Linked DNA regions of Homo sapiens: region 1 is linked to region 2. A link means that fine-mapping ties the variant in region 2 to the expression of a gene that starts in the linked region. Tissue or cell type: testis. Region 2 holds a variant in brackets; the other region holds the start of a gene. All regions are shown on one strand. Distances are between the middles of the regions.

What was found. PIP is the estimated chance that this variant, and not a neighbour inherited with it, causes the effect.
Region 1: LINC00358 starts here. The variant in region 2 is the best candidate, but not a certain one, in a credible set for the expression of LINC00358 in testis (GTEx, PIP 0.59).

What each region holds. Positions count from the first base shown.
Region 1 is chr13:62,025,821-62,033,935 of GRCh38, forward strand. It overlaps LINC00358 (long intergenic non-protein coding RNA 358), which reads right to left and starts at 3,728. Exons shown (of 2, transcript NR_046995.1): 1 at 3,439-3,728.
Region 2 is chr13:62,369,668-62,377,782 of GRCh38, forward strand. No RefSeq gene overlaps it. Among named protein-coding and RNA genes, the nearest start is that of LINC00459, 50 kb to the left of the region's middle. The variant A/G (reference allele first, on the strand shown) is at 4,371.

The sequences.
Region 1 (8,115 bases), 340 kb before region 2:
TAGTGAGGAAAATTAACAACTAAAATACTTGTATTCACATGTGTATTTGTGTGATGTTTAGTAACTATGAAAAACCCTCCTTTTAATCATTGTGAATAGTGAACACTGTTCTATGTAAAATTAGGAATTACTTTTTTTGCACTTGCTATTCTCTTTGCTCTGTGAGTCAAAACAGGGCAGGCAGCTCTAGATTTTCCCATGAACACACATAGGAACACTTGAAAAAATATAACACAACATAAACCCACAAGGCATGTAGAGTTATTTTATGTGAATAAATGTGGATAAATGTATTATGTTCCATTATTCTTTTAAAGAATAAACTCATCTTCAGTGTTATTATAAACTGTGCCTAAATTTAAGGGACAAAAATCATAACATAGTGAATTCCTAAATGAAGATCTATTCAGTGACAGGGAGAACCATCACACTGTGAAGAATAACAAGATTTTAAAAAAAGGCTTATGTGAAAGCTAATATTTCTCTGCAAAGGACTTGGCTGAAATGGAACACTGAGGATTATATTTAGATACTGGTATTCTTGCACTCAGAGGATGCACAGGAGAAAATAGAAATGATTGAGACTGATGTATGTGTTATAAATTCTAGTTCCGGAATTATAAATATCCAAGGAACAACCTGGATCATATGGAAGGATAAATTTAGGGCAATCAAATATTGCTTCAGGTTTTCATTAAAATTTATTATATACATACAATACAGGAAACCTTACAAACTGTATGAGAACTCACAAAAGAATTAAAGCAGCAGGGCATATGTATACTAAATGCTTTTGTCAACATTTATTTTTTTGAGAACTACAATCCAGGATGCATATTTCTCTAGGTTCATAGATATCCATTGAACATATTTTGTTGTCAAGGAGATTATCACAGAACCTCTTTTACAACTTTGTCTAGCAACGTCTTCAACAGAAATGAGAGAAAAAAAGATTAATTGTTTAAAGATCCAATAGCTACTAATGCTATTTTGGAACTATGTATATATTCAGAATCATACTGGTCATTGCACTGGTCAAAACAAAGCAGTTATTAATTAAGGTAATTAAATAACATTATTGGGTTGGGGGGAAACTAGGAAAAACAGAATTGTAGGCCACAACCCTCAATTATTTAGAAATATCCCTGGGGAGAGAAAAAACAAAATGGTTGGTCACAAAGAAAAGCAAGGTAGCATTTGATAATTTATGATTGTACCTAAAATATCAGTATAAGAAATGGTGGAAAATCAGATAATGCATGGCTTAGATACAAATCTTCCTTAACTTCCTCTTCTCCTCAGCTCACACTCAAAACTAATGATTATCGAAGGCCTGAGAAGGAAATATCTCAGATCACAGGAGAGAATAGAGGGGTCTGCGACCCTCTATCAAAAAAGAGTATAAATCTGGCCAGGCGCCGTGGCTCAGGCTTGTAATCCCAGCATTTTGGGAGGCCGAGGTGGATGGATCACTTGAGGACAGAAGTTCGAGAGCAGCCTGGCCTACATGGTGAAAGCCCTTCTCTGCTAAAAATACAAAACTTAGCCAGCCATGGTGGCACACGCCTGTAATCCCAGCTACTCAAGAGTCTGAGGCATGAGAATCACTTGAACCCGGGAGGTGGAGGTTGCAGTGAGCAGAGATCACACCACTGCACTCCAGCCTGGGTGACAGAGTTAGACTCCTTCTCAAAAAAAAACAAAAACAAAATCATAAGTTCATTTTTCACTTATGAAGTTTGTGAGCAAAAGAGATAAGATTTCATGGGTCAAATTATTTTATAAGGATCCAGATGATGAAGGGGGCACAATGTTTGTTCTAGTCTTCCATTTAGATCAGGGTAAGATAAGAAAATGATAAAGAAAGTAGTGAGTAAGCATAAATGTATGTTTGTCAAAATCATGTTTACTGATGATTTTGATAAATACTCACCTTAAAAAACAACAAAAGAAACAGTGTGCTATTTATTTTCTGAAGGTACTGGAAAGTCAACAGTAACTTGGTATTTCTAGTGTTCTCTGGGACTTTGAAAGGACAAAGAAATAGTTCAGGTCTAATAAGAAGTTGCCAAGAAAATTCATGGCTTCGTAATCATGAATTAATAAAATAAAGATATAAAGAAGACATATGTGATAAAAACCAACATGGTTATAGCAACCATGCTGTAATAGATCACAATAGATGGTTGGTGAAGAAGAGGAGGCTGTCTTTGAATAGAAACACTTAGCAAATAAATGTACATGACTAAAACAAAACATTATGTAAAGGTTAAGCCAAATGTGACTCAAACTTTACAAAATTTTAAGGAAAAATTAATGATTTTAACTATATCCAGAATATATATCTTGACTAGAATAATCTTTAAACCATAAGATAAAGAACAGAAATATTTATGAGACATGAAAGTCCTGTGTCAGGCTGGGCGCTGTGGCTCACGCCTGTAATCCCAGCACTTTGGGAGGCTGAGGCAGGCAGATCACCTGACATGAGGTATTTGAGATCAGCCTGGCCAAACACCTCACTGCAGGCAAAACTCTGTCTCTACCAAAAAAAAAAATACAAAAATCAGCCAGGCGTGGTGGTGAGCACCTGTAGTCCCAGCTACTAGGAAGGCTGAGGCAGGAGAATCACTTGAACCTAGGAGGTGGAGGTTGCAATGAGCCAAGATTGCGCCACTTTGCCTGGGTGACAAAGCAAGACTCAGAGAAAAAAAAGAAGGAAGGACAGAAAGTAGGGAGAGAGAGAGGGAGGGAGGGACGGAGGGAGGGAGGGAGGGAGGAAGGAAGGAAGGAAGTCCTATGTCAGTAAAGAGTTATTCAAATGAAATCAGTTTCTGACAAATATTATCTAAAAACAATAAAAACAAAGGGAGAAAGAGAATCCTTACTTCAAAAAATGTAACCTCCAAAACTTAAGAACTCAAGACAAATTAGAAAAGTGCAGGTAGGGAATATTTTTCTCAACAAGATCATAGTGAGCAGTCAGTAAACTTTTGTGAATGATTATAAGAATCACTGCAATACATCGGCAGAAATGGAATGAGAATGGAAAGCAAGGAGCAGGTACATATGAAAGATATTGTAGGGGTATGGGTACAATTATCAAAATCTGTTCATCGCCCAAATGTCATAGCATTAAAGACTAAGAATTCAACACTTATGTTTCAAGCCTTGATAAGTAGAAACAGTACATATACCTATAAACTAGAATATATTAGAAAACCTGAAGGAGGGTTACTTTAATTTGTGCTCGTGTAAGTTGATTATCATTGTTGTTAAATGCACTGAATTTGCAAAGCTGTAGCTATAATTAGGTACATTATTCATTTTCTTATGAAGCCTTTATATAACATTTACGGAGAACATATTATGTACGAAGAACCCATGTGTATATCAGAGTAGAGAAAATACTGAAGCTATGAGAGTTTAAACACTTACCAAAGGTCACAGGGTTAGCAAGGGTAGAATCAAAACACCTGCCTATTTGACTCTAAATCCCATGTTCTTTTCTTTAACCTAAACATATTTGGAAAATAAAGTAAAAAATAACAAAATGAGAGCAAAATGTCTACTTATTCATTGTTTCATTTCTAAATCCTAAGCTTTTGTCCTGGCAGTCATAGAGTTAACTCAGTTTTTCAAGCAGTTATGTTTTCTGAGCCTTCAAAGCTGTAGGTGGAATTAGATTCAGTCAGATGTGGGTTTGAAGCTAGACTCCCTATTAACTAGGTGTGTGACCTTGAGTGAGTGCCTTAACCTCCCTGAGGTTGAACAAAGCTGTTAATGAGCTCACAAAGCTGGTTGCCTAGAGTAGTCCTCACAAAGTGCAATTAGGAGAAGGAAGCAGGCCAATTAGTAATCCGAAACAGGAATTGATTCAAATACGCATCAGGAATGCATAGTGCTGGGTTATATCAATCAACCGATCGATCAGTCTGGGTTAAGAAAGGAGAAGTGACAGATAGCTTGGAGATATATATACTAATTCTGACTTCTTTTATATCTTAACTCCGTGTCACCTCTTTTTAAAGGGCTATTCATCAGAGAAGCAATGAGCAGTTTGAAAAACTAGAGCACTAAACTCAGACGAAACAATTTAGTTTAAGATTATTATTTGCTCATTGCCAATATTATGGCTTAGATTATAAAAATAAGAACTAAGGAGATTAGATCCCCAGTACTTATTTTTTAGGAATATACTGTTGACCTTTACTGCCAGTCTTTGACTGTATCTCTGAACCCTAATTATCTACCTGTGAAATGAAAGTTAAGGAATAAATAATATGATATGTTTTTGATATGAAAGTTCTCGAATTCTATTGCTTGAATTTTAACAAAAGTAACAGAGAAAGAAAAGAAAGCTACAAAAAATTAAAGCTATGTACATATTAAATATAAACTGTGATTGAAAAGAAAATGTCCCACATTAAGAAAATGTTTTTCAGTTAATGCATCCTGCAATCAATCATACTATTGGATTTAAAGGGTGATTACATATAATATACACATAAGTATATAAAATATATGTATATAAATATACGTAAGTATATAAAATAATATTAATTGGGTAAATATAAGAATATTTGAGTAAAATGTAAATATAAGAATATTTGAGTAAAATGTAAATTTGTAGTAGAAATGGAAGGAGTAAAAGCAACTATTGAATCCTACCAAATAAAAAAAATAATGGAGGATTGCCGTGTTATAATTTAAATTAAAAAAATCTAAATATTACATGTAAAATAATAATATACATGCATATGACCTATCACATTTAATTGAAAAGGAGAAAGCTTTTGTCCATTAAAAGAAGGAAAAACAGTAGGTCAAAGATGTAAAATTTTAGCTAAGTATTTAGTGAAATTTCAATGGGACATTTTATGGTACTAAAAAATTGTCAGTTTCCTCATTTTTATGAGATAACTATAAGAATTAAAAAAAACAAGTGTACTGTCTTTCACCTCATTGTTTTTATCATTTCATGAATCACAGAATGCCCAAACAGTAGGTCAAAGATGTAAAATTTTAGCTAAGTATTTAGTGAAATTTCAATGGGACATTTTATGGTACTAAAAAATTGTCAGTTTCCTCATTTTTATGAGATAACTATAAGAATTAAAAAAAACAAGTGTACTGTCTTTCACCTCATTGTTTTTATCATTTCATGAATCACAGAATGCCCAAACACTGTAGAGGCTTATATTCTACGATCGTAAGATATTGACAATGAACTACCTTGCCGCCTGGTCTGATTCCATTATTCAATGTCTTTTTATTTGCTATACATGGGATTTTTCTATCATCCTTATTTAATTCATCCAGAGAGGGCTGTTAAAAGTGCTGTGCTTGTTGTTCTTGCATCCAACCAGCACGGTTGGCCATGAAACATGGTTTGAAATTGAATTTCATTAATAGCTCAGCAGCCTATTAGTATCCCTTCTGTATGAATGCATGTCAGATTCATAGAGAACAAGCAGGGACCTGTCTTAGTTTGATCTCACAGACATCATCCCTTCTAAAATAAGGTAAAATGCTTAATCAAACCACAGGCCTTGATGCCTCCTCATTTCTGAAGACCCATACCCCAGGCATATGGGTTTGTCTCATTTTTAGATACACATAATAAAATGGTCATTCTGAAAGTTCATTCATGTGGGCCTGATACAACTGCTGACACAGTGGGCTTGTATTCTTTTAGAACATGGGGCACAGTGGGTGTTTGCAACAGGCTCTATTTGCTAGTCAGCTCTCACAATGGATCACAGTCTAAGTCCTTTCACCCCAGGCTTCAAAATTGAAACATGAACCCTCTGAGAAATCTTTCATGTATTTCCTTTAAACTAGGCTGCAAAAATAATGAGCAATTAGCTCTTGTAATGATGCACTGCTGTTTAGATGAACGACTTGTAGATATTTCAAGTAGCCCATTTGGATCCTGGAGAAAAGAAAAGAAGTCTACCTAGGAAGAGCCTTCCTATTTAGTCTTCAAAGTCGTAGGTTGCTCACCACCAAGCTGAGCTTCTGAATAAAATGGTTGCTTTTAGCCTCTATAAAATGTTGGCACCCTGTCAGAATCATGTTTTTCAAGTTTCATTTCCTAGTGCCAAATTTTCATGCTATGTAACTTTTTAGGTAGCCTCCAAGAAAAGTCAAAACTTTAATATCAAAAACTATCTTCCTGTTCTACAGATTTAGTTTGATTAAACAGGTTTGTAGCTTTTAAAGTATGTAGGATTTTCATTAAAAAAAAAAAATTGAAACTCAACCCTTGATCCCTTTCTCTGAAAGCTAGTCAAGGGTACATCTGTTAGCTGATTATTTTTGTTTGTGTGTTTGTTTGTTTTCCTACCAACATGAAAAAAAACCCACAATACATCTAGATCATATTAGATTTAATACATCTGAAATATCTGAAACACGTTTTCCCAGTTCATAGAGTTTGGTTATCCATGATTAATGGATCAAGTTTACTTTGATTTTTTTTTCCATTTTGTAAATGGTGGGAACTCTTCTAGAAAGCTCTAAAATTCCAATATGAGCTTTTAACCAGTATAAAGTCTCAGAGTGGAAATATTTTTCAGGCATAAATAGTCTTATTGCCAGAAACCAATTCCTTATGGTGAGTAAAGATTATTCACCTCTAATGTTGGATAAATAGTGCTTCAAAATAAGGTTTTACGACAAAAGGGCAAAGAGTTAAAAATGCTTTCTCTACTGACTCTGTAACTTCAACACATTACTTAACCTCTTTAAGTTACATAATTAAATAATTAAATTAACTTGGTGAGGCAAACATTGGTACAATTATTTATTAACACCTTGGATCAGATTAGTTTATCAGATCCCTAAGACTATTATAGAAAAAATAAAACGGGACACTGATAAGAAAATCTTAAAGGAAAAAGGGAAAAAAATGCTTAGAACATGGGGCATAAGAGACCAACTCTGAATGATGTACCCTAACAGATTATTAGTAACTAGAAAGCAGAGGCTCTCATGAGGCATCAAGCTTCTTTTCATCAGAATCTATGTGTTTTCAACTTTACCTAACACATGATACATCATTCAATTGCAAGCACCTAGCATTTAGCAAGAACTCAAACTTTACTGAATAAAAATTTATGACATTTTGTCTATGGAGTCATGAGTACACTGAGTAATATTAGGTACAGAAAGTAGAATAAGATGCTATAGACAGAGTTTTCATATATTTTTTCCATCATATTCCTTCACACATTCTGGTTTATGGCTTCCTTTCTGTGAGTGTATAAAAAAGGCCAGTCTTTAGTATCTGCCAAATTCTCCCTAGAATCTTATTCTGCTTGGACCAGAAACCAGTTTAGTACTCGCCGCCCCTAAATTGCTGATGAGAGCAGAACGTCCAGGGTAGAAAGTCCTGTTTGAAGCCCTGTACCACGCCAGGATAGTAGGGAAGGCACAATCTAGAAATGTTAATGGCTCAAAGATACAACATAGGAATTGGAGGAGAGAAGTTCCCTACATACCAGGCTCTATGTTTTTTGTAAATCTATTTTATCCTCTCCAGGGGATGATTCAGTATGAATGACATAATTCTCATTTCTGCAAAGCAGGAATATATTTCTAGTGAAGGATTAAGGACTAAGAAAATTAGAAACACTCCAGGAGCTGAAGAGGGTGGGAAGTTAATAGATGGCTGGTAATGGAGAGATCAGAACAAAAGGCCTGGGGGGATTATGAGTCTAAAGACCACTTCATCAAAAATTTGAAGTGAGGAGAATCTATCAAGTAGGAAGGCAACAGAACCATTTATTCAGCTCATAAAAGAGACTTTAGATGATTCTTGTTGAGATTTTCTAAGCAAAAAACTTGTAGTGAGGGCACAGCAAAAACTGTACACATGGGGAATCAAACAGAATAGTAAATCCACCATTTTTGTGCATGGCAGGGCTTTAATGTTAGCAAATTTCCTGAAAAAGAGGGTACAAGGCCCACAGGCTCCTTTTTCTGCCCCTAGTAATGATCTCATGCATGCCAGAGCTACAGGCGCTTAGAAGCACAGAATGCTTACACCTGGAAAATAAGTTTCTGGGTTCTCTAAGTTTTAAGTAGTGCATATCTTTCTTATTTTAGGTA
Region 2 (8,115 bases):
CTTGGATTATGATTCAGGAGTAATATTTCCCATAAGGATACATGTAAAGTAGGGAGGATGTATTTGTTGTGTCTGGTAACGTGATTTTGCTTTTGCAAATAGTTTTTAAGCACAATAAAACCTGATATAGAACATTTTGTTTTATTGTCACCTCCTCTTAAATTGTCAAGTATACACTCTACCTTAGAACATAGGTCTCCTTGACTTAGTGATACATTATAGCAGCTTTGATCTTACAACCATGTGGCAAATATCATTTCCTTTCTCTTGCCCTTCAATACAGTATTTGCAGGCTGAATTTTGTAAGAGTTTTCAGTTTACTTTTTATTTTTCAGTTTTCCACCAATATATCTGAGTCCCTACTCCAAACTTAGCAGCACAAGATGGAACGTTTAAGGCTTTTACATAGCATATAATCATGCTATTCTGTATTAAAGTTAGAGATTGTAAAGTACTAACACTAACATGCCCACGTTTGAAAATTGGAAATCAATTTAATACCATCTTAAATTAGTTTAAATTATAAAATTATAATGCATGTAAAATATTAGCACCATGTAAATAACAGCTTGTTGCACCTATTGCTGTTGAAGAGTGACTGGTTTTCTTTACAAGCTTTTCTTTAAAGTGGGTCTGTCATGCATGTGTCAGTAGTTTAAATGTAGTTTATAAGTCATTTCAACCACAGCTTTGAAAGTATGTGATCTTGAGACCTTAAAAACATCTTAAAGACTTGCATTACTTCACATTTTGTGCACAAGGCAATATTTATATTAATATCTTACATCAAAATATTTTAAAAGTGAACAACTTAAAACTACCTGAAATGTAATTGCACACCAATCAATCAACTTTAGCATTTGCAGAGTAATACTGGAGTTATCACAGATAAAGAAAGGATCAGAATTCAGGCCAAGCTGTGAAGAATAACTTATCAGGGAAGATAAATTTTAAATGTAAAGGTTGTTTTTTTTTTTGTTTTTTGTTTTTTGTTTTTTTTGCTTTATTTTTTGTTAAATAATGACAGGGTTTCACTCTGTCACTCAGGCTGGAGTGTAGTGGAATGATCATAGCTCACTGCAGCCTTGAACTCCTGAGCTCAAGGGATCCTCCCGCCTCAGCCTCTTGAGTAGCTGAGACTATGGGCGCATGCCACCATGCCTAGCTTTTTTTTTTTTTAATTTTTTACATCTATTTTTGCAAAGGCAGGGTCTCACTATGTTGCCCCGGTTGGTCTTAAACTCCTGGGCTCAAGCAATCCTCCTGCCTTTGCCTGACACAGTGTTAGGATTATAGGCATGAGCCGCCACCTGGCCTAAAGTTTAAGGAACCTGAGAAATAAATGAGATTAAAGAGAATCATTATCAGCTGCAAGAGCACATCTTTGTTAGAAGTGATAATTTAATGCAGTAAAATTGTAGTTTATTTTTAACTTAACTTACATTATAAAAATTAAAGTTACACCACTGTGAAAATCTATAATATGATTAAAGAAACTTTTGGACATTTAAAGTTCTGGTACAGCCTGGTTTTCCTTCTAAATTGGCAAGTGACTTATACCAGGAGAAATGTGGCCATGCTTTTAAATAGCCTCCTAATGTTGAGCTGACCCCTGATATTGAATGTTCCATGTTTCCTTTCAATGAGAAGGAAGGTTTGTGCATTTTCAAAAACTGACAATTGTCAAAAAAAGAGCCAAAGAATAGTTATTCTCTGAACCTTGAAAGTGACTTTTGTGTGGCATGCAGCAAAATAGGGTGAGCATTTACCTCATGGAACATTTCAGTTTTCCAGGACAAAGCTGTATTATAAAGTAGCTAAAAATTTATAGAAATTCAGGAAAGTTAAAATCCATATGCACTCTTAGAAGAGACATTTTATTATAACAAGAAAAATGTGTTGATCTAGAGTGGAGTGATTAGGCCATTTGTCAAATAGAGTTACTGTTTCTGATAACATTTACAGGTCACATATACTTTTCAAATCTCAATAGAAGTAAGCTTGCTCAAATGGAACTTACCCACCTGAATTTATGAGATTGATTGTTAGGAGTAAAGGTTGAAGCATACTATAAAACATTTTAAAGCCTTACATTTTTTAAGAAAAAAAAAGCGTGAAATTACAAAGTTAGAGAAATACTTTCATTAAACAGCTTTAAATATAAAGATAGTAATTTATTGAGTTTTCATTATTAGGTTTTAATTATTGAGTGTTAATTGTTAATTATTAACTTACTGAGTGTTCACAGCCAGGCACTGTGTTATGGGTTCATGTGTGGCTTATCTCACTGTGAAAATAATACTGTAGCATAAGAACTAATATTATTCCTAGACAGATGAGGTAAATAAGTCAAATAGGGCTATCCGAATTGCTCAAACTCTTGCCACCCTTTAAAACATGTGGATTTTAAATTTTCATAATTTTGAAGGAGCAATTTGTGTTCTATAAAATTATTAAATCTAAAATAAGCAAACAAACTGCTCTTTATTAACTTTTGTAGTGTTTTTGCAAACCTCTCACTGTTCACAATAGGACATTCTCTTTCAATGTCATTAAAACCAAAAATTTAAATTTTATTATTTCTTAGAGAATTTTTAATGTTTATGTGTCTAACCTGGCTGTGCACTTTTAATGTTATTGGATGTCTCTTTCCTCTACCACACACATGCAATTTTAAAAATAAAACATCTCTATGTATTTCCCTACTTAATACTAATCAATAGTAACCTTATTGGAGAGTTATTTTTCTATGAAAAAAATAAAAGTGATTAAATGGTAAAAATAATGAATATAATAGCTAAATCTATATGGCATTCACTCATTTGCAGATACTGTGTTAAGATATATTCACACATTATCTAATTTAATTTTCTATCAACCTTCAAATATTTGTATCGTTACTCAAAGTTCATTGGTGAGGGTATTTAAAGACCGAGTAGCTTAATATTTAACCACAAGAAACGCACTCCAATAAATGGCCAAACTAATTCTGTAAACCTGGTCTTTGTTATAACAACTGTTTGTTCTTAATCACTGTGTGTTAATTCTCTAAGGAAGGGTGTCCAGTAAGAGCAACCCCTTATTTATGGAAACATATTACTGTTCCCTCTTCATGTAAGCAAGTTATGATGGTGATTGTGACTCTAAATAATAAATTTAGAAATCTTTTTTGAGAGACCAAAGTTTATTTACTTGCTAAGAATTTGGTTACCCAAAATAGTTTTATTCTTTTCCTGTTACATGAATTTAGACTAACATTGTTTTAAATAATATACTTGCAAAATAAGATAATTTAACATAATTTTAGTTCTGAATATCTGCTTGAAGGTTTGAATACATCTGCAATATTTTATACATTTTGAGTTGTTTGTTTCTTGTAATTCATGCACCATTTTTTCCCAGATAAATATAAAATAGGTTCTAAAGAAAAATAAAATTTTATATAATTTTTTTAAAATTTAAAGGTCATAATGCACCTTTGTGACTCTAGTTATCTAGAATATATTGTAGTAATTTTTCTTTGCTAAGTATTTTAAATTTCTATTTCTTCTCGGTGACTTATAATTTGGTGTCAGTAGAAAAATTCACTCACTGATATTAAATTCCAAATATTTTTTGTAGGTGTCTTTTTAAAAAACAGAATTTAATTAACAATTGATAATTATTAATAATTTAAAAATTAATTAAAAATGAATTACTTTCATATATAATTCTGAAGAGAATAGTCAAGTGTTCAATTGAGTATTTGTTTTCTATTAATGATAGAGAAAAGCCTTAGTATTCTGTAGAAATCTTGTCTGTAAGAAAAGGGTAAAAATTAGATGAGTTTGATTATTTCACTTAGTGTGGTATAGTGTTGGGAAAATTAGAAGAATAAATGGATTGACGTTCTTTTGAATCTACAAACTATTGCTTGGAAAATGTTATACCATTATTTATTCCAAATTATTTTTTCTTAAAATTGTCTCAGGTGCTAGTAATGAAAATCAGCAAGCCATTTCAACATTAATATCATGACAATTTGGGGCTGAAACAAGGACTTTAAATTGGCTCATTTTCAAAGAATGTGTAATTTGGCACCTTTTAACTTGTTTGAGAGAGAATTAGCTTGAAAACTTCTATGACCAGATTTAAAACATAGACTATTCTAATAAGAAAGATCAATTTTGTAAAGATTGACAATGCAAGAATGTACTATAAATATGTTATAAGTCATAAAAATTTTTCTAAAAATCTTTATTATAACTTTATGTTGAAAAATAAAAAAAGATTGTATTAAATATGTTAGAATTTAGAATGTATTACTTTTTACTAAATAAACTTCAACCAAATTAGCACTAATTTAACTGATTGGAACTGGCTGAAATATT[A/G]TGTTGATTCTTATGTCTGGTTAAAGCTTGCCTTACTAAATATGACAAAATGTTAAGCAATATACAATGACAACTATATTTCTTATTATCTCCTCTTAATAGTGTTACATCTTTTGAAAAATAATTAGATGATTTACATTATGTGTTTAGACAGTTGACTAAACACTTCTTGTTTTAGGTACTTAGTATTGTACCTAAAACATGGATTCATCTCCTAGAAAATCTTAGTTTATTAACTACTAATTTGCAGAAACATAGCAGACATGCTATAACATAGCATGCTATGACATGCTATAACATAGCAGACATGCAATAATGATTTAAATGAATGTATTTGACAGAGACAAATGTGTTACCAAGAAGCATTTTTACAACTGTGGTTTTCAATCAGGAATGTACCTTAGAATCATGAGGTGACCTTACAAAAACTACAAACATTCAAGCTCTATCCCAAGAGTGTTAGGTTTAAATGCTCTGGCATGGGACTATGACATTAGAATGACATGGAATGACTTACCTCAAAGCATTAATCATGTAATTGGATACATTCTCAATTTATTTCAAGTATCTTACTTCCCATACTTTTGGATTACAATTATGAAATCAATCAGTGCTGTTCATCAAATATTTCTAGATCTTACCTCAGAGGTGTATGGTGCATTGTACTACAATGGCCACCTGTAGAAGTTATTTTTGGTAATGTGATTTTCGTTGGCCAAGAAAATATTAATGGGAGCAAAATATCTAACTTGGGGACAGAAATGTTAAGAATCAGAACACAGCTTATCACATTCTGTTATTTCCTACTTTGTTTATTTAAGGATTGCATTTTGACACAGAGCCCTCTTTAATCTAGGCCTTTTAAGTAAGGAGATTAACCTGCTGTCATTTTCTCACTTGTAGTGTGAAAAGAAATAATTATACTGAGACACCTCGTTACTGCAATATAACCTAGAATACTCTGACTGATAACATTTATACAAACTCATAAAGATAAGCAATAAATAATTTTGTAAAAAAGAATATTATATTTGGTAAGTTTTATGGAGAAAAATATCATGGGGCTGATCCTCGAGTAGACCAGAGTCATAAACACAGTTTACAGTACCTCCCTACTGAATAATTAAAATACACAGTTAGTACATGGGTGGTGATGAATTAAATTATAATTGCTATAATAATTACAGCTGAAAAAATAAAGCATGTACCCTCTGCCTACAGACCATAATAATTTCAACCCGTATTATTTTCTTATTACTTAACTGTTCCATAATGTTTTCTAATTATTCCTTAATCCAAGTGCTTACTTTGACGTATAACAGCATAAATTTTCACATGCACTTTTACAGTGTATTGTGGCCTCCTTAATACTTGTTGTCTGAAAGGCCCCTTCCCCTTAGCAGAAATATTGATGTTTAAAAACAGACACAGAATCATCTTTCTTCTATAGTACAAAATTCGTGCCATAATTTACTTGACAATCTTATAAAAACCTCAATTTCTTATTAATGCATTTTTAGATTAAGTACTATTTTTTCCTACATTCGTCCAACTGATTCACCTATTATTAAGCTCCTTAATATCTTAAAAGCTTTATTTATAAGGGGTGCTAAATAGACAGTCTGCAGAAAAAAAAGGATAAATTTAAAATTGAGGAACATAATGTGAAGGAAAAAACAAAATGAAATCATTAGAATCACTGTACTCAGGAGATAACTGGTGAAACATATATTTCAACTTAGCATAGCCTCCTAAAACCATAGTGCTTACATTCAGTGATAGGTGTCTGTATGTGCGACACAAGGGAATGGCATTCACAGGAGTGACAACTAGATGAGCTTCTGCAGATTATAGGCTGTGTCATAGATGTTACAGAAAACATGTAATTTATTCCATTCTTTTCCCACTAAGCAATGCCACCAGATGGCAAGTGTATGTTAAGTGCCTTATTACCAGAATAACTCTAAATTTACTTTAATTGATTTGAAAACGAAGCTAATCACTTAGTAACCTAATATGAACATACTTGTATCTATTAGTTATAACTTGTGCCACACCTCTCAAATTATTGCAACCCACCATCAATAAACAGGTAATTAAAAAGGCAAACAGTAGAACAATAAAATAAAGCAATCAAAAAAGAACAACGACAGGCATTCAGGACTTCTTTCTTTTAAGCTGCTTTAGTACTGTGAAGGCTTCCATACTTTCATTTACTCAGTTTTCTTTGCATTCCTAAAACAAACTAAATTCCCATTTGCCAACTTTCTGCTTTATTTTCTAAACTCAGGTTATTTTGATGATGTAAATATTCTGGAATATATAGAGAGTACTCTTTGAGTAACATCTCTCTCTTTTATGATATTACTTTTCTTGGTAATACAAAGCAACTTGATTGGGAAAAATGCTATCCTTATTTAGAGGTAGCATGTGTAAACCAGCTCTGCTGGAAATTCGTTTTGTATTACTCTTTTAAAACATAATCAGTAAAAAGACATAGAAAAGGAAACAAACATAAAAAGGCAATTGGACAGTGTGCAATTTGCACTATCTGCAAAAATGTATAGTATCTGTGTTCTTACAGGCTTTCTCTATATTTTAAATGTTTAGGGATAAGAAATACTCTATATTAAATACAAATATTTCCACTGATTCTATTTTCCCATCCTTCTTACTCAATTTTTTTAGTGGCAGCTTAGTTTAAGTAATAAAAAAATCATAAGTAGACATTAATAATTGATGTTCAAATGATTTTTCTCTTTATTGATGTTAACAGCCGCTAGTAAAGAAAACGCAGATTTTTTAAAACATCTGAACTTGATTTTAAAACGCTGTCTACATGAATTCATAAATTAAAGAAATTAATTCTGAGACCACATAGTATTGGTACCTTGATGTTTAATTTAAAGAAATATTTACTCAAGTAAAATATAGTAAAAAACGTTTATTCATTCTCTAAAACAGACCTTAAAGATGCTGACTAAAGAATAATATACACTTATGCCAATTCAGAATTCAGTACTTCTTATTTGGAGAAGAAAATACAATGGGAATTTAATTCTGTCATTTTTCATACTCTTACTAGCGACTTAAATTAGCGACCTAATTTTTAAATTTATTTATTTACTTTTTTTGTGTGACAGGATCTCACTCTGTCCCCTAGGCTGGACTACAGTGGAATGATCCTAACTCACTGCAGCCTCAATCTCCTGGGGCTCAAGGAATCCTCCCTGCTCAGCCTCCTGAGCAGCTGGGACTACAGGCCCCCAACACTGTGCCTGGCTAATTTTTTGTATTTTTGTAGAGAAGGAGTCTTGCCATGTTGGCCAGGCTGGTCTCAAACTCCTGGGCTCAAGTAATCCTCCCACCTTGGTCTCCCAAAGTGTTGGGATTATATGTGTGAGCCACCATGCCTGGCCTATTTCTGATATTTAAATAAATATTATTTCTAATCTATAATATATTAACTTGAGAGCATCCACTTTTCAATAAATGGTAATAGAAAAGAGTAACATCATCTTGCAAATTAAAGATTAAATGTAGAGAGAGATAATATGTGTTTCTCTCCCTTGTCCAAATTTTAGGTGGTGAAGTTTTTTATTTGAAGATTAAAACTGAGATAAGACTTGATTTTATAGTTTCCATAATATAAAAATTTTATTTTTCAAGTATCTACTTTTTCACAAGTAATGAACCTTTTAAGATTATGATCAGAAAGTATTACTAAAGTATTACTAAAATAATT